Linked DNA regions of Homo sapiens: region 2 is linked to region 1. The links come from fine-mapping of genetic effects on gene expression. A gene starts in region 1. The other region holds a variant in brackets. All regions are shown on one strand. Distances are from middle to middle.

What was found. PIP is the estimated chance that this variant, and not a neighbour inherited with it, causes the effect.
Region 2: its variant is the best candidate, but not a certain one, in a credible set for the expression of PON1 in hypothalamus (GTEx, PIP 0.64).

The regions. Positions count from the first base shown.
Region 1 is chr7:95,321,033-95,331,581 of GRCh38, forward strand. PON1 (paraoxonase 1) reads right to left here and starts at 3,500. Exons shown (of 9, transcript NM_000446.7): 1 at 3,370-3,500. The coding sequence starts at 3,443. RefSeq lists a silencer at 3,444-3,623.
Region 2 is chr7:95,898,988-95,911,240 of GRCh38, forward strand. The region is part of intron 6 of DYNC1I1 (dynein cytoplasmic 1 intermediate chain 1); the gene reads left to right. Among named protein-coding and RNA genes, the nearest start is that of DYNC1I1, 130 kb to the left of the region's middle. RefSeq lists an enhancer at 3,196-3,787 and a silencer at 6,277-6,477. The variant CATAGGT/C (reference allele first, on the strand shown) is at 5,090.

The DNA of each region.
Region 1 (10,549 bases):
TCTGGCTGCTTCCACTCATTGCAGAAGATGAAGAGAAGCCAGTACTCACAGAGATCATGGGATGAGAGAGAATGTAAGAGAGGGGAGAGGTACCAGGCTCTTTTCAATCAACCAGCTCTCTCGAAATGAATAGAGTGAGAATTCACTCACTCCCAAGGAGGTCATTAATCTATTCATGAGGGATCCATCTTCATGACCCAAACACCTCCCATTGGGCCCCACCTCCAACATTAGAGATCAAATACGAGGTTTGGAGAGGACGAACATCCAAACCAAGGCAGAAGTATTCGGTGAAAATACATGCTGGCTGCTCGCAGAAAAAAGCAGAGATCTTTGCCTAGGCATTAAGAAATCCGTATCGATTCTCAAACTCTTCTTGGGGCCAAATTCACTCTAATCAGTCTATTTTCTGCTACTACACACGCCTCATTCATTCAAATTGCTTTTCATGGCCTACTATGTGCCAAGCTCCAATAAGGGCTCTCACACATACTTCCTCATTTAATCTTTTTAGCCACCTTTGAGAAAAAGATGAATATTTACCCTGTTTTGTAGGTAAGGAAATGGAGGCACTGAGAGGCTGAGTAAATTGCATGTGGTTGCTTATTTAAGAGGGTAGAGTTGGGATTTGAAATCAAGTGTCATGATACTAAGGACTCTTCCCTGTATTTCTTTCATACCTCTTTTTATTTGCTCACACTTTTCCCTTCACCTAGAATGCTCTTTAGCCCATTACCCACTGGAAAGACCCCTACTCATGATGCTTTGTAGCTTCTCCAGTCTTCTGCATTGGGATTAATAACTCCTTAGTTTACCCTCAGGAACCTTCACATATACATCTGTCAACTTTCTTACCATAGTTGTCATAGTTGTCAGTTTCACAGCTGTCAGTTTTTGTTCTTTTGCTCCCAGTAGACTTTAAAATTGGTGAGTGAATACTGCAACCTATTCATTCCTATAACCTCCAGCAGAAACACAACGTTTGCAAAGAGAAGGTACTCTGCAGATGTCCACTGAAGTGTTTTGTGGAGATACTAGGCAAGTACATCAGACTGAGAAGATGGTGTTGGTTGCATTCATAGGGGAGACTGGAGGGTTGGAGGATTATTTGTCCTTATCTCAGACTTTCAATGAAGTATGATTATAATACATATTCAAGTATCACTCTATATTTTTGAGATCACATATGACAGCTATAAAAGCTAACGTTTACAGGACATCTGCTATATGCCTGATTTTTATATATATATATATACTTAGTTTTATTTATATGTTTTATATAAATATAAATATATGTATGTGTGTGTGTGTGTGTGTGTATATATATATATATATGCTGTAATATGTATTATTATCCCCTAATTTTCGGGTGGAGAAACTGGCTGGAACTTTTCTGGAATAAAGTGGTAAAATAACTTGAAAGTTGCAGAAATGATATCTAACCCAGGTCATCAGGAATCCACAACTACTCTCTTCCCACAACTGTGTGTTGCCTACAGTAAGCATGGAATGGCAGAAATGCATCGAGAGGCCCAACGTTAGCTTTGTGGTTTCCTTCTGAGAAGGGAAACTCAGTGGACTCACGTATTGCAATTAGCAATGTAGGGACAAGGAAGTTGCCATACAGATGCTGCAACATTCCATAGCCCAAGTTGGGGTAGGGGAGGGGAGCTGTTTCTACCATCATCCAAGGCATTCCCTGGACTTGTGCGGCACATACAGCCGACTACAAAGGTGGGAGACTCGTGGGTGGGAGACTCGTGGTCTAGGGGAACTCTCTCAGTTCTTTTCTCTGTACTGCTCCCACCTGGGAAACTCAGAAATCTCTTGAGGCATCCCTTGTGTGCTTCCTTAAGTTCCCTCCAGCCCAGGCATATATAGCTTCCTGTGAGCCGCACACACATACACTCCAAGTCTGAAGAAAAAAGGATGCATCTATCCTGGGGATTTGGCTTGCTCCTGATGCAGGCCTCATGATATCATCTCTTGCCTTCTCTCCCTGGGGCAGATTCATGATCTCTAATCCCCCAGGGAGTTTGTTCCATGACGCTGGTTCTGATTCAATAGTGTGGGGTAGGGCTTGAGATTCTGCCTGTACAGGGAGCCCCTAGGTGATGCTCAGGCATCTGGTCCCCAGACCCAGTTGAGTAGCTAGGTTTTAGGGGTTTCCAACAGTGGGTAAAATTTCCCTTCCTTCCTCTGTCTGGGTCACTCCAGGAGGCTCAGCAACCCATCCTTTATCTATATATTTTTATCTATACCTATAATCTCCTTTGGCAGCCACCAGCACTGTGATTAATAAAAACTCACAAACTGTAATTTTTACATGATTTAAAAGCCAAGAATACCAACTGCTTCTTACTTTTTTTCTGCACTCTGTAACTTAAAAAAATTAGAAAAACATCCACAATAAATAGTAAAAACCCATTCTGAATGTAAGCTTCTAATTAGTCCATAAGCTCATATAATTTTTTTATATTTAATTTTTATTAGGTTTTACTTTAAAGTAAATAAGGCATTGTTGACTAAGCCTTAGAGACTAGGATGATCTGTAGACTTTGAACTCCTGTTAAAAGTTATGAAACTTTTGATACATTCTTAAAATATCCCCACCCCCCTTGTATAGCACTTAACCCTTTATTAAATACTTTAAAGGGAAGCAGGGAACTAACATTTATTGAATAGCTACTCTGTCGCAGGCAGTGTGTATTACTATTTCCAGTTTACTGAAGCAGCTAAGGTTAGAGATGTAAAGTGATTTGCCCAAATCGCATACTCATGGGGCAGAGCTAAACCCCAGGACATCAGATGCTGGCTCCAGGGTTCCCTCTTCCCCGCCTGCCCCCACTGAAGCGAACCATCACAGCACACGTTAGCTCCACCTGCTCGGGTCCACACGCAGTTTTGCTGTGGCCCTCAGTAGCCTCAATTTGAGAATCTTCAAGCCTGGAAGGTTTGCCATGGCCAGGCAGTCAAGGCGCAGAAGCGACAGGGGCTCCTTTCTCTAATACACAAAATATCAGGAGAACCCCCAGCCAGGTTAGTTTGTTTCTTTCCAGGTTGAGAAGTGAATCTGTAGCCAGGGCACACAAATCTTCATGAAAAATTAATTCGTGTATGCTGACAACCTGGGCACTCACACCCCTGGCAATTGCCTCCTTATCCCATGTCTCAGGCCATGAGCAAGAGTTTGTTTTCAAGTGACACATGACGGCTGGACAAACATTTATGAAACCCCCGCAGAGTGTGCATCTAGCACCTGCTTGTAAATGTTCTGTTAACAGCCTGGACCCAACTTTCTGGGGGCTCGTGGAGCTGGCAGGGAGTGAGGAGGACGAAGGCTGCAGCCCTCACCACAACCCAACTTACTGGTAAGAAGACTGGTGGTTCCTGAAGAGTGCCAGTCCCATCCCCAAGAGGGTGAGCGCAATCAGCTTCGCCATGGTCGGGGATAGACAAAGGGATCGATGGGCGCAGACACCGACGGGCTAGGAGGCTCTGCCTGCCTGCAGCCGCAGCCCTGCTGGGGCAGCGCCGATTGGCCCGCCCCGCCCCTCCCCGCCGGGTCGGCAGCTAGCTGGGCCGACCAGGTGCACAGAAGGCGTGGCTTGCGGTCAGCCCCCACCGCAGGAGCTCAGCACTTTCAGCCAAAAGTCCCATTTTGCTCCTTCCAACTGTAAAGAGAGAAGACAGAGAATAGGTGCCTAGTCCAGTCGGGGAGGGGAAATCAAACAAGCTGAAGTAAATTGCCATGGGAAAGGACAGTCAAGCTTTGGTGAGCACTCACTTTGTGCCATCCCGGTCCTTGCGTCTCAGAGAGATTCAGTAGCTTGATCATGGTGACAGCCAAAAAGGTGCGGAAGGGAGGGCTGTAGTAGGAACCCCTAAGATCTAACTGTTCTCACCAGGCTACTACTCTGTGTCACCTTCCAACATCTGGATTTCAAGCATTTTTCTCTCAACACCACTCTGACTTTAGAGTTCACTCAAGTACATCCCCCACACAGCTCATTCATTTCCTCATGCAGCTGGCATTTATTGAGTACCTACTATGTGCCAGGCGCTGTTCTAGATGCTACAGAACAGGACAAAACGTCTTCCTCAAGCTTACGTTCATTCCAATGGGGGGAGTCAATTGAGAAATCAGCAAAACATGTCACTGTGGCATATATAATGCTCTAGGTGATGCATGTGTGTGTTATGGATATGCACATATGTTATGGAGAAAACACATAAAGCAAGAAAGGGGATAAGGAATACCCTCTGCTGAAGAATAGCAGTCAGAGAAGTTCTCACTGATAATGGGGCATTTGAGTAAAGACCCAAAGGAGGTGCCTCTGTACAACCATGTCTCTCTTCTCTGCTGTCTGCTGTTACTGTGAATGATTTGCTCCATGTCTCTTTCCTTCTCAAGGCTTTTGGTCCCAGTTATACCTTCTCTCTTCTGCAATATCTGTCCTTTCATCTCTTGTGGAATATTGCCAGCCAATACCAACATGCTTTACTTATCACCTTTAGCTTTCTGGGGGGAAGCTTCTTTGGCCTCACATTGTAACTACTGCCCTCTCTCTCTGCTCCTTCTGAACACTTGCTCTTAAGCCTTGAGCTACTATGTAAAAAACCTGACCACTCCACTGGAGCATTCACATGAAAGGCCATGAACATATGGAGAGGGAAAGTGGTCAGCTGAAGCCAACCTCTTAACCATCGGCACCAAGGAAGCAGAAATGAATGAAGTGGGCTATTAGACAAGCCCAGCCACCACAGCCTGGCCACCAACTGAATACCACTGGCTAAGCCACCCTGGTTAACACCAGGTGGAGCAGAAGAATCTACCTAAGAAGTAGAACCAATGAATCCAAAAGAGAAGAGTATTCGAAAAGAGGGGGAATGATGATCTGTGTCCAATGTGGCTATGAGTTGAGTATGCTTATGGCAGAGAAGTAACTACTGAATTAGATAACATGGATACAATAGGTGGTTTAATAAGAACAAATTCTACACGAGTCAAAAGAACACAAACCATATTAGAATGGGTTAAGGTGAGAATGGAAGATTGGAGATATTTCACAAGGTTAGCTGCTAAACCAAACAATCATTTTCTTATGCTCATAAACAGTGCATAAGGAATTTGGGCAGGGCCCAGCAGGCTACCTGGTTGACATGCCCACTGGGGTGTTTAACAGTCTTTTCAAAATGTGTCCAAAGGAAAACTCTTAATCCCCCCTGCCCAAACTCACACTTCAATAAATGGCATCACTACCATCCAGTTGCTCAAGTCCAAAATCTACATATCTTCTTTCATCCATCTCTTTTCCTCACACCCTCTTGCACCAAACAGATCAGTCAGTCCTATAGGCTCTATTTTGTATTAGTTATCGTATGCTGCATAACAAATTATACTAAAGTCTCACCATTAAAAACAACAAACATTTATTATCTCATCATTTCTGTGGGTCAGGAATTCAGGCATGGCACAGCTAGATACCTCTGGCTCAAGGTCTCTCATGAGTTAGCAGCTGAGCTGTCAGTGTGAATTGCCATCTTATCTGAAGGCTCAACTGGAGTGGGTGAAGGAGGTGAGATCAGCCTCCAAGATTACTCACACAGCTCTTTAGAGACTTCAGTCCCTTGATACTTCAGTCCCTTGATACGTGGGCCTCTCTACAGAACTACAACAGAACAAGGTAGCTGACTTTCACTAGAATGAGCAATCTGAAAGAGTGAGATAGCATGCCTCCAAAATGGATGCCACAATCTTTTATTAACCTAACTTCTGAAATGACATCCCCTAACTTCTGTCATATTCTGTTTGTTAGATGCAAACTGCTAACTCCAGTTTACATTCAAGGTGAGAAGAATTAAACTTCACCTTTTGAGGCTCCCCTTCATATGCCTTGAGGCATATTGATATGGTTTGGATGTTTGTCCCCTCCAAATCTCATGCTGAAATGTGATCCCCAATGGTGGAGGTGGGACAGGGTAGGAGGTGTTGGGTCATGGTGGCAGATCCCTCTGAATTGTCTTGGTGCCATCCTCATGGTAATGAGTGAGTTCTCTTGCTCTGAGTTCACGTGAGATTTGGTTGTTTAAAAGACTATAGCACCTCCCCCCACCCCCACTCCCTCTCTTGCCATGTGACATGCTAGTGATGCCCATCACCTTCCCCCATGATTTTAAGCTTCCTGAGGTCCTCACCAGAACCTGAGCAGATGTTGACACCATGCTTCCTGTACAGCCTACAGAACCATGAACCAATTAAAACTTTTTTTATATAAATTACCCAGCCTCAGGTGTTTATAGCAGTGCAAAAATGCCTAGCCCACATATCAAAGAATGTATAGATAGCTCTTTGAAACCACTACAACTTTCAAATAATCTTGAATCAACCCAATTTTCCCCATTTCCACTGCCATTACTCTGGTTCAGGCTGCTATCATCTCCAGGCTAGAACAGATTCTCCATTGTTCTCTCCCTAATCACCCTCCCCACAAATCCATTCTTCTTACCAAGGCCCACGTAATCCTTTAAAAATGTAAATCAGATTATATCATTTCCATGCTTAAAATCCTCCCTCTTGTGGCTTCTCATTTTATTTTCTTATTGTGGCCTGAAAGGCCCCACAAGATCTGGGCTGTGCTTATCATCTGACCTAATTTCTTATAATTCACTCAGCATAACGTTGCAGCAACATTAGCTTTTGTACCATTCGGTACACACACCAAGTTTATTGCACTTCACCATCATTGTCTTTGCTATTCTTTGGCTAGAATCCTCTTCCCATCCCCCTGACTTAACTTCCCAACTACCCCTTGCATTTCTCTTTCTCTTCATTCAGGTCATAGCTTAAATGTCACTTCTTCTGAGAGGCCTTTCCCAATATTACCATCTAGAGTAGACTTCCTCCACACCCTCTTCTCCTGAACCCTCTCTCTGCACCAGTTACTAAGACCTCAGTGCTGATATCAAATGGTTAGCACCAGTACAGAATTACTGGTTATTAGAATAATGACATATTTCTACAGTGGTTGTTAAATAACCACTTCCTCAGACCCTCCAAGAGGTCCTCCACAATACTGACCATTCTCTCTTCCCTGGAATCCTCCCTCACTTTACCATGATCTAGCAACCAAGGTATTATTTCCTGGCACAGTAGGGTCTCTAGGATTCTTCTCCCAAATAGTGTTTTGTTCAGCTGGGACTGAACTGACTGATTGAGGCTGTGCCATACCTGGTGTTAAGGACTCTATCACCACTGTCTTCACAGCACTCCATAGGAAATCATCTTCCTACTTAATGCCACCTGCCTTCCCCTACTAGCATGTAAACTTTTAGAGGTCACAGACCTTAACTTGCTAACTACCTTCTCTCTAACTCCTAGAACAGTTTCTGGCACATAGTAAATGCTCAAATATTTGTAAAGGGAAGGAAAGTACAAATGAATGGCAAGGGGTTGGGGATAAAGGAGGCAGGAGGAGCAGGGATTGAAAGATGGTTTGGGAGTAGACTAGAGATGCCACTCTCTCCTTTTCTGACCCAGTTGTCCTATGGGCCTTAAAGAACCCAAGTGGTCTTTCTTGCACAAAAATCCATGGTATTTGTTTGAAGTCACTGACTATTTGTTCTCTTTGTTCTCTTTTACCTCTTTTCACAACCAATCTTGTCCTCCTTCCTTCCCTTAACCTACTTATCTCTTTCAAATCCAAGAGCAAAGGTTTCCCATGTCAATGCACACTTTGAAATGGTCTGCTTTTTCTGGAGCTCTTGCTCTGGGCTTTTGTTTTCATTTGCTCTTTTGCCTGAAACACTGTCTTTCCATAAGCTTTTTATTCCCCATTTTAAAATACAAACGTCTTTATTGAGATATAATTTATATACAATAAACTGCACACATTTATAATATATAAATATAATTATATGTGTTTATAATTCAATATATGTCATTATATATAAATCAATAAGTTTTGGCATATATATTCACCCATGAAAACATCACAGGCATCAAGGTAATAAATATATCCTTTGCCTCCAAATTTCTTCATGCCTATTTGCAATCCCTCTCATACCTACGTCCACCCCACTTCCCTACAGATGTATTAGTTATCTACCATCATGTAACAAACAAGCCTGAAATGTGTCAGCTTATAACAACAAACACTTATCACCTCTCACTTTCTGTGGGCCAGGAGTATGACTACAACTTACCTGGTGCCTCTGCCTCAGGGTCTTTCCCAAGGTCGTAGCCCAGGCATTGGCCAGGACTGTGATCTCATTTTAACAAGCCAGATGGAAGTCACCATCTCTTTGTAACCTAATTTTCAAAGTGACATATCATTTTTTCCATGTTGTATTCATTCTGTTCTCTCAAGGTGAAGGAATTACACGAGGGTATGAATACTAGTCCCCATTCTTAACATGATCAAATCCTACCTGCTCCTTCAGGCACCTGTTTGCAATTTATTTCTACTAGTTTTTCCTGATGTCTAAATCTTGGATACCATTCTCATATGTCTCATTGCACCATGCTGCTTCTTTATTATTCCTGCCACTCTGTATTGTTAATACTTTATCACGGTACTGTTTTTCTCACTAGACCAGAAGCCTGTATAAAAATGCCTTGCTTGTTGTTATAGCTCTAACGCCTGGTACAGCACCTAACAAAATCTAGGTGCTCAATAAATATTGTTGAATACATGAATGAATGAATGAATGTTTAAAAGTTATTACAGAATCCTCTGGAATACTTTAATGTTCCATATTTTATTTACTGTAATGCCATCAGTGTTAAATACATAACTATCTATTATTCTTTTATTTTATGTACTACTAAAAAAGAAAAACTATAATTAATCTACAACACAATTCTAAGAAACTATTAATTATACAATAATTTCCTATTTCACACATGTTAAAATGTGCAGACAAGAGTATGAGTCCATGCTATGTGAAGATTTTAAATGTTATGAGAAGTTATGAAGGTGTTTTAAACTTAGAATTTTTTTATCACCAGAAATGTATAACCAAACATTTAAAAAGCAAACTTCTTTAAAAACTCAGATCTCACCTTGACTATTAGAATCCCTTTCCTTTCCTCCCTTGATCCTCATGTGCTAAGTATTTATTTGCACATGTTCAAATACTTCTTCCTAAATATATTTGGTAACAATCACATCAACCCATTCTTTTATTTTCCCACAAAAAGCCTAATTCACGGAGTAGTCAGTAAAAACTGTCAATGAATTGGTAGAAAGCCAGAGCCAAGTTTGCCAAGCTTAATTTTGTAGAAGTGCAAAAGGATTGATTGGGTAACTATACCACTTGGTGTTGTTCATCTGCAGAGGATGCTGAGCCCTGTTGGCAGTTGTTGCAATGTTCTCAAGTTTCTGAAAGTGTGAAATTCCAATGTTCTAAGAATGCCAATAATACCATTCTGCATGAGGCAGCTATAGTAAAGCTGGAAGAAAAAAAAACCCAAAAACCCTGGGCTTTAAATACTAAATTCATGGTCACTTCCTGAAAATTCTATAGTAGCAGAAATAACATCTGTAAAATGGAGATAATTCCTGTGGGTTTGCTGTATTAAATTTTTAAAAACCTGTGAAAGCACTATGCAGATATAAAGCAATGGCAGTGCAAAGTACAAGGTACTATCCAAGTCTGGAAGTTAGTTTACAAAATGCTTTTACCTTACATTCTCTCACAAGACCCTGGACAAGGAGATAGGATCAATACGATTATCCCCATTCATACAAAGTCATCCAATTAGGAAGTGTAGGAGCCCTAAGTTTGTATGTCTAGATATGGGCAAACCAAAACTGACGTGCACCTAAAAACAGAAACTGAAAGTACGAAAAGGGAAAGCTAACAGAACTATGTCACTTCACTTCAATTGTCTAAGCACACATCTCAAAAAGCTTAAAAATCCAAAGAAAGGAGAAGGATGGAAATGAAGATAAAATCAGCAATCAATGAAATAAAAAACAAACTTGAAGAGAGACTATCCATTGTATGAAGTGTCATTCAGTTATAAAAAAAGAATAAAGTCCTAATACATGCCACAACATAGATGCACCTTGAAATCATTATGCTAAGTGAAAGAAGCCAAACACAAAAGGCAGCATATTATAGGATTCCATTTACATGAAATAGCCAGAAAAGGCAAATCCATAAAGACAGAAAGCAGATTAGTAGTTGTCAGGAACTGCAGGGGAGAGGAGGATGGGGAATAACTACTTAATGCACATAGGTTTCCTTCTGAGATGGTGAAAAATATTCTGGCGCAAGATCATGGTGATGGTTGAACAATATTGTGAACATACTTAATGCCATTGAATTGTATGTCATTGAATGGTTAAATGATGAATTTTATACTATGTGAAATTTACTACAATAAAAACTTAGGACAAAACATTCAAAAGTTGATTATTGAAAAGACTAATGAAAGATATAAAACTGTGGTAAGACTGACAGAAAGAAAATGAGAAAGAAAACAAATTCTAAATGTGAGAAATAAAGAGGATATTACCGCAGATCCTAAATATGTAACAAA
Region 2 (12,253 bases), 580 kb after region 1:
GCATTTAAAATGCTTTTGTTTTGTCACCAAGTAAAGGTAGGCTTTTTGATTTTTTTTCCAAGTACTTGTAAAATATTGTTTTTAATATTTCAAAAATGTGAAATCCACAAGTCTCAGACCTTGTTTTGAGACTTTGCTTACCCCCACCACCTAGGACAGTGCCTTACAAATTGTAGATACTCAATTGATATTTATTAAGTGAATGAAGGAAGCCCTGTAGAATTGTAAAATGTCAAAGCAATGGGGAAGGGACCATGTTACATCTGGAGACAGAGCTTCCAAGCATAGTAATCTTGCTCTGCATAAGGATTTCTGACCCTGCTTATATGTCAGAATCACCAGAGGGGCTTTAAAAAACAACCACAAACAAACTGGTGCCGGGATGCCTCCATGGGCCATGAAATCTGAATCTTCTGTTGGTCACTCTTGGGCTGAAATGATGTTCAAGTCAGAGGTCAGCGTTTCCCCATACTGGGCACCCTTGAGATTGAATCCCAGGCACATTCCACTCCAGATGGCCAGGTCTGATGTGTTGGTTCCACCAAGTCAGAATCATCCTGGACATTTTTTATATATTAGCTTGAGTCAATGACTCCTTGAAAAATGGAGATGGAGAACAGCAGTTGGTGGAGAGAGTGAACCACTCCTTCAGGCACGTTGTGAGCTGAACTAATTTAAAATCACAGGTAAGGATAATGCTACATGTGGAGTGTGTTAGAAACCACCACTTTCATTCAATGTTTCTAGCATGTTAGGATATTTAAAGCACGGAGGGGAAGAAAAATTACATCACTAGATTTTTTTCTGATCTTAAAGTAAGTTTTGAATATTTAATTCTTTTCTATGAATATTCTCCAGGAACTTCTACCATTGTTATCTGACTTCTATTCTACCTCTGTATGTATCTCTTTTGCCTTCTTATTCCCCAAAGCCTCTGATTTTAGAGCAGCTTGCAGAAATAGTGGTGAATAATGTGCTTATTATCATGTAGGTGCTCGCCTGTATTTTGTATGCAAGGAGGTATCTGTTCCATGGGACACATGAGTTTGCCCTGACGATGACCCAGAAAGGGTCTGCATGTGTATTTCTGCTGCCTTTTCCGGCCACAGCTTGGGGAGCTTGTCTGTAGAGGGCGTCCGAGGCTCCATGGATAGTGAGGTCCATCCTACTGCATTTTCAACACTGCTCCATAGCCTGTGCTCAGCATGCCACTGGAAAGGAATCCTAGCTGTATTCTCTTCAAATTTCCCTTCCCCTTTAATTCTTACTTCCTTCTTGTGACATTCTGCTATTCTTTGCCACAAACCATTGCAAAACAACCCATACAAGAGTTTTTGCCTCCTCCTTGGCTAGGGTAGAAGGCTCTTTGGAAACCACAAAGCCACATCTCCAGGGAACAGTAGCTTTATTAATATAATAATCACCACCATCATGGCCTGGATACAATATACACATTACTTTAGAAAGAAAAATAAGGACTATCTGGGGTTTGCTGGAGAAGCTGCACTTGAGGTTAGATGTGTATAGTTAAATTTGGAGTCAAGCTGAGGTCATTGCTAAGGAGATTTGGAGTTGGAAATCCATGTGGAAAATGGTTGCCCCATGGAAGTTATCCTCTCACCATTAAAACTCATTTTGAATAATATCAGTTAGGGAAAATACGAGGGTTTGATCCTGTAAGACTTGGGCTTTTCTTGATGCCCTGGTTTACTTGGAAAATAAGTTGTATGGTATATAATCTTTGCCATCCATCCTCTCTTTCTCAAAAAAATCCTAGCACAAATGGAATAAAAAAGTTTTATTAAGAAGAATCATACCATGTATGTTTCATGAGATTTTCATTCTAAATAACATATAAGGAATGAGTTGCACAATACCAAATATTTTAGACTGTGTTCCTTCTAAATAAGTTGAGTGTATTTAATGAAAGATTTTCTCCAATTGAAATGGAATAAGAAGAAAATATTAAAAGGTCCTTTAATTTCTTATTTGGTTGTTTCTTGGATATAGAGGAGGAAGAAAAAATAAAGTGTGGCAAAACAAACAAACATGGCATCCTCCTTTTTAAGCAATCATGTCAGCTTGGATGGAAATAACAAAGGATCCCAACTAAGTGTGCCAGAGCCTCCGGCAAAGGCAGACTGCTGACATGGCAGCTGTATGTTTCCAGCTGATTTTAGGCCTAGATAACTATCCCTTTCAGCTTAAATGATGCTCTACAGTCATTGACTAGTGCCCAGTTAGGTTGGAGCACAGTTCTTTTGGAACCTGTTCAGACCAACTTGGACTGCCTGTGAGATCTGGGCCAAGATCAGACTGGTTTCCTGGAGCCTGAGGCATAGTACAGGCTGTAGTAAAAGGGACAGAGTTCTCTGCATGTGTAGTAGAATGTATCATTGCATCTGTTTGCTACCTTTACTTTTTAAGAATAATCACAAATGAGTGAGAGCTACACTGTATTCTTCAGACTGAAGCAGGGTGTACACCAAATATCTTTTCCAATAATCTGTAAATTCAACAGGTTATTTTTCTTTTCTGTTTTAAAAATAGCTTGTACTTATCCCCCTCCTCTCCAACCCAAGTGTGGCTCTTGAACTATTTTCAATATATTGCCTTTTTAGGATCCCAAATTCTCCTTTTAATGTGAAACTTGCTTTAATTGACCAAAAATGCCATTTTCAAAATGTTCAATTCTCTGCAAAAGCATTGCTTACTGACAGTGCTTATTGATGAAGGCTGTGGAATCTAAAGGATGTCAACAGATGAATGAAGCCTAGTATGGTGAGATGAGGGCTGCCATCTGCTTAAGGGTTGGCCAAACACCTGGATAATTTAGGCTAAAAGACCAGCCATTTCTTCATTCTGAATACATAACAGAAATCACTGCTTTTTAGGTTTGGCCTCAATCAACAACAAGAACTGATTTCCCTGGTGATGCTGAACAAATGTTTAAGAGAGTAAGATCTGAAACTGATTCTCCAACTTTAGTGGGCCAGTGCATAAAATGATCCAGGTTTTCTGAATGCACATGAGCTGCCAGATGGGTTGTTTAGTATAAGCAGTGCAATCTTTGTTTCTTTAGCTGCTGTCTGCAAATATTGGTATTTAAGGGCGGCTCTAAAGTGACCAAAGAAAGTTTGTGAAATTCAAGAGGCTGTCTTTTTCCTTTCCCAAAAAATAATTGTTTTTGGTATATGAGCCCAGGAGATAATTGCATGCTGACTTCTTGTTCTCCAGTGGCGTGTTTTTTCCTGCTATTGAGCAGAACTGAAATAGTTAGCATGTAGAAAAATACATGGAATATTAAACTAAAATATGTCTGTCTAGGGATCCATTTAGTTGCCTCCAATAGCTCCTTTCTTTGTGAATGCCATTATGTTTATATATATTTAAATGCCCCCTTTGCTACACTGGTTTTAGCTTCTTGTTAGCATCACTTCTTGTTAGCATGATGTTCTACAGCACAAGGCAGCTGAAGAAGTGAAACATGTGTTGAAGAATTTATGCAGTGTCCTCAGATTCTTTCATTAAGAGAAGCAAGAATAATAGGTGCATATTATAAGCTTGCTGTGTTAAGCAATATGTTATTGCTATGCTTGACAGACATCTTGTTTACATTCATGTTATATATTGGGGAAACCATTGCATTTTAAGAACATGGCATTTTTTTATAGTATTATTTATACTGTGCCTCATATGCATGGGAAACGTAGTCGTCTAAAAACATGATATGTTTTAAATCCACTTGTCTCCTCCTCCTAATGAAATATTCCAAGTGCTTTCCCCCCAGCGTAGGGAGTTCAACGTGTTCTTTATTCAGGCCATTCTAATTACTGCCAGCCACATTCCCTCAATTTATTAAAACAATGGCCCAGCTTATTTCAGTTTAGTTTAATTCATGTGTGAAAACTTTACCCCCATCTTATTCCATGGAGAACAGTATGAAAGCTATCTTTCTAGTTGGTCCAGTGTTTTTGTTTTTAGAAAAGCACCGGCTGTTTCCAGGCTGACTCAGGAACATCATTAATTTAGTTGAGCCTTGTGCAATTGTTAATGGGCATGAGATAGCCTAGTGGTGCAGCCTCATCTGGAGTGCAAAATATTACAGTACTCCATGGCCAAATCTTGGTAGCAAGTATTTTTTGCTATCTTTACCCTCACTAAGGAGAAACGTGAAGTGTGAGGCAATTTAGTATAGTTAGTATTTTAGTAGTAAGTACCGTATATTGAAGGTGGGAAATAAGAACATATTTACCTTCTCCTAGTTTTTACATCTTTTGCACACTGAAATCAAACTGTGCTTCTCCAAAGTGTTTTGTGCCATTTTACCCAAATGCTTCCAACTTATTTAGGGAAGTGTTCATTTTAAGAGTGTGGCACCTTGTATTTTCTGAAGCATCCTTTTCTACCTCCAACAGGGAGCAGCAAGGCTAGTCACAGCTAGTTCTAGCTGGACAGTAATCCATGCCAAGGACTGGAACCCAGAAGAAGTAAAAGTGAAGAAAATAAGTGGAGCTGGATTAAAAGATAGACCCACACACAAAGAGGCAGACAGGAGACTTAATGTTTGCAATGTTTCAGCTTGTGGGAAAACCAACTGTCATGTGAATATTCTGCAAAGAACAGAAATGATATCATTTTATTAGCACCACAATTCATAGTTTATTGAATGCTTCCATTTTCCAGGCCTTGCTAAGTGGATCCTTTATTTAAATTTATCCTTATAACAACTCTGTGGGGAAAGTTCAATCATTCCTCTTTGATAGGTAAGGAAACTGAGGCTTACAGAGGTTGTGGAGCTGTGTGAGGGTACAACCAATAATTAGTAGAAGCAGAATTTGAATCTCTGTTTGACTCCAAAGAATGAGAATGTGCATCATTGGTAGGGTGTACTTAGTTGAATGCTAGAAAGCAGTGGATGCTGCTGTGAGATAACTTGGCTTAGAGCAGAAAGCAACTCCCAAAGAGAGCCTAGAGACAGGTGGGTGGAGAGGAGCAGCAGTATCCTGAGAATGTGTTGACAGTTTGGCAACATTTTATGGCTAGATCAAAAGATTTCTAGTCCAGTTTTGCCTTATTTTTCTGGAGG[CATAGGT/C]ACTAGGCAGCTGATAAGTGGGCTTGGTTAGCCCTTTATTTTAGGGTATATGGAGAAGTTTAGACTGCCCTAAATCTGGCAACTGCATTATGGTGCAAGGGCATCACATCACAGAATCCACATGACATTACTTCCAGAGTACTGTTACCAAGGACCTGGACCCTAGCCAGACCTCAGGCCCTTGATCCTCAGTTCCTCTTTCCCTGCTCATCTGTGTAAGATGGAGGCAGCTGACTCCCAGAGCAACTGCTGGATGGGCTGATGGACAGAAGGAGATGCACCCTAGTAAGCCATAAGTGATATGCTTTGCCTAGCTAATTCTGCAAAAGAGAAGTGACAGATACTCAGCATTGAGAAATTGGTCAGATTATTTATAACAAAATGGGAGGAGACTGGAGACTGGGAGATGAAGAGACACATTTTCAGCCAATGGCAGATGCAGGACATCACAGAACATTCTCTTAGGATTTGCATGTTGGTTAGTATTGGGGAGATTTTACATATATATGTAAAAATACATATGTATGTATACATATGTGTGTATGTATATATATATATACACATATACACATGCACACATACACACAAAGATATATATATACAGACATCCCAATAATAAGCTTTCTGTAAATAGCAGAAGGGAATGTGATCTTGAATTCTTGGAAAACTTTTTCCTTGACATCCAATATCTCTGAAAAGAATTGTCAGTTAAAGTGTATGTTCTAAAAACTTTTAGCTCCTTCTTTGGACTATCTGCCTGCCACTTGATTGTTTACTCTCTGACCCACTGGCATGATATTTCTATATTGATTTTCCCAACATTCCTTTTGTCACATCTCTGTTCAAAGTTTCAGAATGCTGAAGTTGCCTATGCAAAAAGTCAAAATGCCTTATCACTGAAATCAGTACTTTTCACAAGCTAATTTCAGCCTGCATTTCCAGGTTCATTTCTACAGTTTCCCTGTGTAAGTTCTCTAGTTTAAGCAAGTGGGTCAATTTATTGTTTCTGACCCTTATTTAAAGTGTTGTTTTCACTTACAATGCCTCCACTGTTTTCTTTACCTGTTGGAATGCCAATTGGAAGCCAAATTGATGGCCTAGAATTATAAACCATGACAGGCAACAGACAAGGTGCATTTTGGCTTGGAAAGTAATTGAGGTCATAAATAGCAGTAGTTTCAGAGTGGATGAAGTAAAGAGGTTCCCATGTTGCGTGTGCAGAAACACTAAGGCAAGCCTTGGTCCACTGGGTCAGTGACATCGGAATGGAATAGGTCAGTACCCTGGATAGCTCCCAGGAATACAAAACTCGAGTGCTGACAAGGTTCTATACTTGGAGTTGTAGACCTACTCAGCTGCAGACTCATATTTTCTGCACCCCTTTTTCTTAAAAAGGCCACTGTCATTTTTCCTCTAAGTTTAGCAACTAGAGATTCTAAGACTCATGCTAATATTGCCCTTCTTCTTTCCTGACCTATGTCTCAAACTCACGTGGGGTCCCTGATTATGCTGAAGGGTTTATCCTCCATTTTATTGCATGAGATGTTCGCCAGGGGGTTTGTCTTTCTTCGGGTAGGGATAGGGACTGGACTTCTACTAACGCCCCATTGTGTCTGGGCTTTTTTTTTTTTCATAGATGGCATTTCATTATCCTGTCAACACTGTGAGCAGATTAAAATTTTGCCCATCCTTCAAGATTAAGTCCCACTCTCACCTTTGCTTTGATCTCTCCACTGATCAGCCCAATATAAAAGTAGCTCTCTCTCATCTTAACTAGAACACTTTGTAGTCTTTATAGTCATTCATTTCAATATTAATGATATACTGTTCTTTATAAGCTATCTTTTTATCTCTCTGTGTTATAGCTCTCCAATTGGCTTGGATGCTTCTTGGGGACATGCTTCTTAGCAACAGGGCTTCCCAACGGTAAGGACCCAGTGAGGATGCACTGCAGATTATTGCATGAACTATATTTTTTCTGGGAAAGACAGAGAGAACAGTTTCAAGTTTTCTGATAGACATGTTCAGTCAGTAGCCCTTTTCAATTATATGTAAAATATATTTCTTGAAGTTTCTATTATTTCTGGAAGCCTTCTCCTTGTTGTGGTGTAATGAATATAGCATGGACTGTTGTGAGCCAAAGAGACCTGGGTTTGCATTCTTATTTCACCACTTATAACTGTGACCTTGGGCAAGTTACTTAATCCCCTTGAGCTACGGTTTCTGCATCTAGGAGTATGGAAACAGAATTCACTGCATATGATATTCGTAAAAAGTAAATGAGATATTGAATGTAAAGGGTCTCAATCACTTGTCACAGAGTGAGAGGCTTAATTCTTATTGATGCCTTTTCCTTTTTTTATACATCTGTGGCTCTTGCTTTTTAATCAAACTTTTCTGAGGGTCTTTAAAACACCACCTTTACGTATTTTCCACCATGTGCTCACAGTGAGTCCTTGATCTCGGTGAAGGACTTATCTTTCACTTCCATTTATTCCTAGAATTAGCCTTAATTTTTTTTTCATTAAAAGATTGAGACTTAGTTGCTTTATTTGTTATTCAAAAAACAGACCTTTAAGCTGTATGCTTATATTTACTGGGGTGGGAGAATTTGTCTTTGAGGAAATCAGGGTGGAGTACATTTGCTCTTGCTTCTTTTATTTATAGAAAGCCCCATTATCAAGCAACCTGAAAAACTACAGTCTACTATAGCTCCAAGAAAATTAAATGCTTGTGACAAACAGAGGTCTCAGGACACACATTGGGCAGCCCAGTCTTCATTGCTTGCAAGTGGCTGATTCTCAGAGACTGTGAAGGAAAAGTCTTAGAATAAATCTGAATATTTATGAAAGAAAACCAAAGCATTTTAGCTGGGCTTCCATCTCTTTAAACAATACCAGTCACAGAAATGTGGTTTCATAGTCATTTAAAATACAGTTTACAGAGGAATTAAGCTAAACCACTTAAGCTCTCCAAGCAGCTGTGCTTTCTCAGCTTCCTTACCGAGAGCTGCTTGCAGAACATCCGCTTTGAAATCGGCAGCTCAGTCAAAAACAGAGCTGTTGATCTCTGAGCTACTTGCTTTTTCTTGTCCCACACTTCTCAGGTAATGCAAAACAGTGGAAAAATATTTGGATACGAGCATATATCCTTGCCCCGCTTTTTCATGTTTGAAGCAGCCTTACTCTCATGAGTGTAAGTGAGCACCTGAAAATGAGTTAAGGTCACACAGTGTGTGCTTTCATAAGCCACCATATAATTGCCAGAATGACCGTTTATATTTTGGGGGAAACTTTAGGACTTCTGTCTTCCCGGAGAATAATCTGGCACTTAAAGCTGTGTACAGTCAGCCTAACCTCCTCTCACTTGCACATGGGAGCCCTTGGACTCAGCCCGTTGGTCTCTTCACTCTTCACTATGGTCAAATCACATTCCTGTCCCTGTGCCTGTGGTCTTGCTCTTCCCTACTCTTCCAGTGACATTCCCTCTGCTGTTTAACTAGCCCCAACCCCACCCATTCCACTGCTGAAAGCCCAAGACTCATCTCCTCACAAATAGTTCCTACAGCCTCTTCAGTTCAGTTTCCCGTCCTCATTCTCTGCCTTTTACCAGGACTGTATCGGTTCATTTGGTCCTTGTTCTCAAGTAGACCACAGGGCAGTCTACTTGAGAATGAATGTCTCAATCAACTGTTTTTTTTTTTTTTGGTCTCAGAATATATATATATATTCAACATTCAATAAATATTGTTTAACAGAATTATCAGTTACATGGAAAAGTAGAAAAGCATTGTCAAATTGAGTTCTATTTTTTGAAAACAAAATATGAGTAGCAAGAAATAAATAGAATGAAAACAATACTTGCAAATTATGTAAGTAAATTCAACCAAATGTGACAGATGGAAATTTTTATAATTGTTAACTATGTTTTATTTACTTTTTATAACATATTTTAACTAATACAAAATAGTGTTTAGGTGTTGGCAAATTTAGTTAAGCAGTCATGGGTATCTTATTTAAGGAAGAAGATCATGAAATGCTCTTTTTAACCTTGTTAAACAACCACGGGAGGAGATGGAGACTACCCGTGCAAGGAGACTGCACTTATAGAGTTTAATAAAAATGTATCTATCATAAACTTAGTTTCTAAAACAATAAAATATTTGTTTATAGAACCCTATCATGGAGCTCTCTAGTTTTGCAAATGAGCTATTTTTCCACATTTCATTCTATAAGCAAGCATTTGACACCTAAATAGCGAGCTGTAGATTTAACATCTATTGTGTTATACCCTAAATATCAAAGATTTAAAAAAACACTGGTAGGCACTATTGATGAGACCATGAAAAGAGTTTTGAGGAAAATAATGCAGCCTTTTGTACCAGAAAACAGTAATAATAAAAAAAGTGAATGACTCATGATGCTCATAATACACCAAATGGCTAAATATTACTGGTTGAACAACTCTTCAACTCTGATTTCCTGAGCATTTTTCTAGCTAATCTGTAGGATTTAGCATTCAGTCGTCTGGCCTCTCTGGGTGGGGCGAGGGGTGGGGGTTCATCCATAGCCAAATGCAGGAGAGCCTCCTTGATTGCTCACTAGCAGCCCAGGAATCTAGGACTCCTGGTGATTTTCCCCAGCGGTTGGTTTAGAAAGTGTGCAGGCTTAGATACATGGAGAGCAGAGTGCTCGGCAGGGCATCCCCAGTGGAGCAGCACTGGAAAGCTGGCATCACCACATTATCATATCCAGAGTCATAGTAAAATGTACCTTGTTAAATGTGATCTTGGCCTGTAAAGAAACAAAAGACTACTTTTAAGACAAAACATAAACTGCATTACAAGCCAGGGAGTAGGGTTGATGGGAGGACTATGGGACGGCAGTGGGGGGAAATTAGAGAGTTGGGCACAGCTCTCCCAGACAGTGTCTGAAGAAAAAAGACTGTGTTTGTTCCTGGAACAGACCAAAAAGGGAGGATGTGAAGACTGATGAAATACCAAAGAGAGACTTGGGATAAAGACAGTTCTAATTGAAAGGGAAAGAATGGCAGGACAAAAGTTCATGGGGAGGAGAAAGAGGAGCTCAGTAATGAGACAGCAGAAAAAAAAAAAAAAACCCAGCTGAAAACTCTGGAGAAACTTGGAGGGTGGGAGGGGGGTGGGGGGGGGGGGCGGGGCGGGAAGGGAAAATACAACTTGGATATTTTTCGAACTCTAGCAGCAACAAGGATGTTTCCTAACCACATCTTTGGCTGTGAGAACCTTGTTGTTGGAAATTACATGTAAAACAAAAATGTGTCCAGATTCCATTTTGTATCTATTCATTTTTAAACCTGTGTTTATTGGGCATCTTCTGTGTGACTACATTGCACTACAGCCGGGGTTTCAGGGGGCATGGCTTGGGCATGCTCACACTCTGCTGTCCTGGAATGTGAAGGAATTGGATCCTGGGCCATGAAAGGAAAAGAGGAAGGAGGAAGAGAAGGACCTGGCAGAAGGAATGAGGGTGAAGCTGGAGTGACTTTTATAAAATATAAATAAATCGCATCACCCCCTTGCTTAAAACCCTTCCGTGGTATCTGGTGCTCTTTTTTTAAGGAAAAATTGTATTATTTTAATTATTTTTATGTACAGAAAACTCAACAGTGTACATTTAAGCCACTTTGGTGTGACAAGTTCTTTAACCTTTGCCTCTTCGAGCTTGGCAGTGCGAGCCACAGACTTGGGACCCAGCATCTGGTTGCTCTTGAGATCAGTCCAAACTCCTTGCTAGGTGCTTTGAGACCTGCGTTACCTGGACTGAGCCTCGTTCTCCATCCTGTTTCATCTGTCTTTCTCTCTCTTTCTCAGATGGTCATTTTGGGGTTGCGCTTGATTCAAGTGCACTTCAGAGGTGGTCCTGGGTCAGAAGACTGGCTGCAGAGCTGGCCCCACTGTTAGGCCACTGCAAGAATCTCCTTGCCTCTTTTCCTTGCATTGTCCCCACCTTGTCACCCCTATAGGGATGCTGTAAGGATGAAGGCTTTGCTCTTGCTTTGTTTGACCTATCTGAATTGGAGGACTCAGAATTCTTCTTTCTCCTTTCATTTCCACTCAATATTGAGTCCCTCCTAAGGCCTGTGAATTATTTCTTCATATTTCTTGGATCCTGTACCTTTCATGTCATTCCCAGAGCTAAAACCCTAACTCTAGCCATTATTACATCACACCTGAAATAATACAGCTTCCTAAATGCTACCCCCATCTGTTCCTCCTCCCACCCAGATTAACTGGCATTCAGGACTTCTGTGTCCAGGAGCCAGATGTTTTGTATTTTCTGTTATATTATCTGACAGCCCTAGCCCTTCATCCATGCATGTATAATCCATGTAAAGTGGACACTTATCCCTGGAAGTGGTAAGTCTTGAGCTGGGCTCTGAGGCATGGATTAAGGTTTAGAGAGGCTGAAGGGCAGGACAGGGCCTCCTGGGCATTAGCAAGGGTTTGGAGGCAGGTGTGCTGGGGCCAGTAAGTAGAGCAGAGAGTAATGGGAAATCAGGTTGCATTGGGCTTTGGCTGCCTTGTCAAGGCATTAGAAGAATAGGAATCAGTACAAGAATTATGGACATTTATAGGTTACAGACTGGGTTCAAGTCCTATTGCTGTCACTTATTAGTTACATGAACTTTGAAAGTACTCAGATTTCTCACCTGTTAAAGAGGCAATAGCACCCCTCACAGGGTTGTTTTGAAAATGAAATCAGATCATACATACATGTAGCTCACAGTTGCTCATGACTAGCATGTAGTAGAGGTTGGCCGTCGTAATATTGGCCATCATCATCTTTATCATCATGACCTTTGTCATGATCATTATTTTTTTGGATAATGGTGAATATTAAAGATTTGGAATTTTTTAAAAACGAGAGGTGAGAAAGGATAGCATGGTAAAAGCTATGCTTTGAGGGTGTCACATTTTTAGGAGGTTAGCTTGGAAGAGTTCTGAAGAGGCATTCTCACTCAAGTGTGGGGATAGCTGGGCTACTCTGCCAACAGCTATGATGATGTTTCCAGACACAGTATAAAAAAATAGACCAACAAGGCTTGATAATCCACAATTGTCAAAAATTAGAACAGAGCAGGAGTCTTGAAGCCAGGGAAACTTCACAGTTTTGGAGG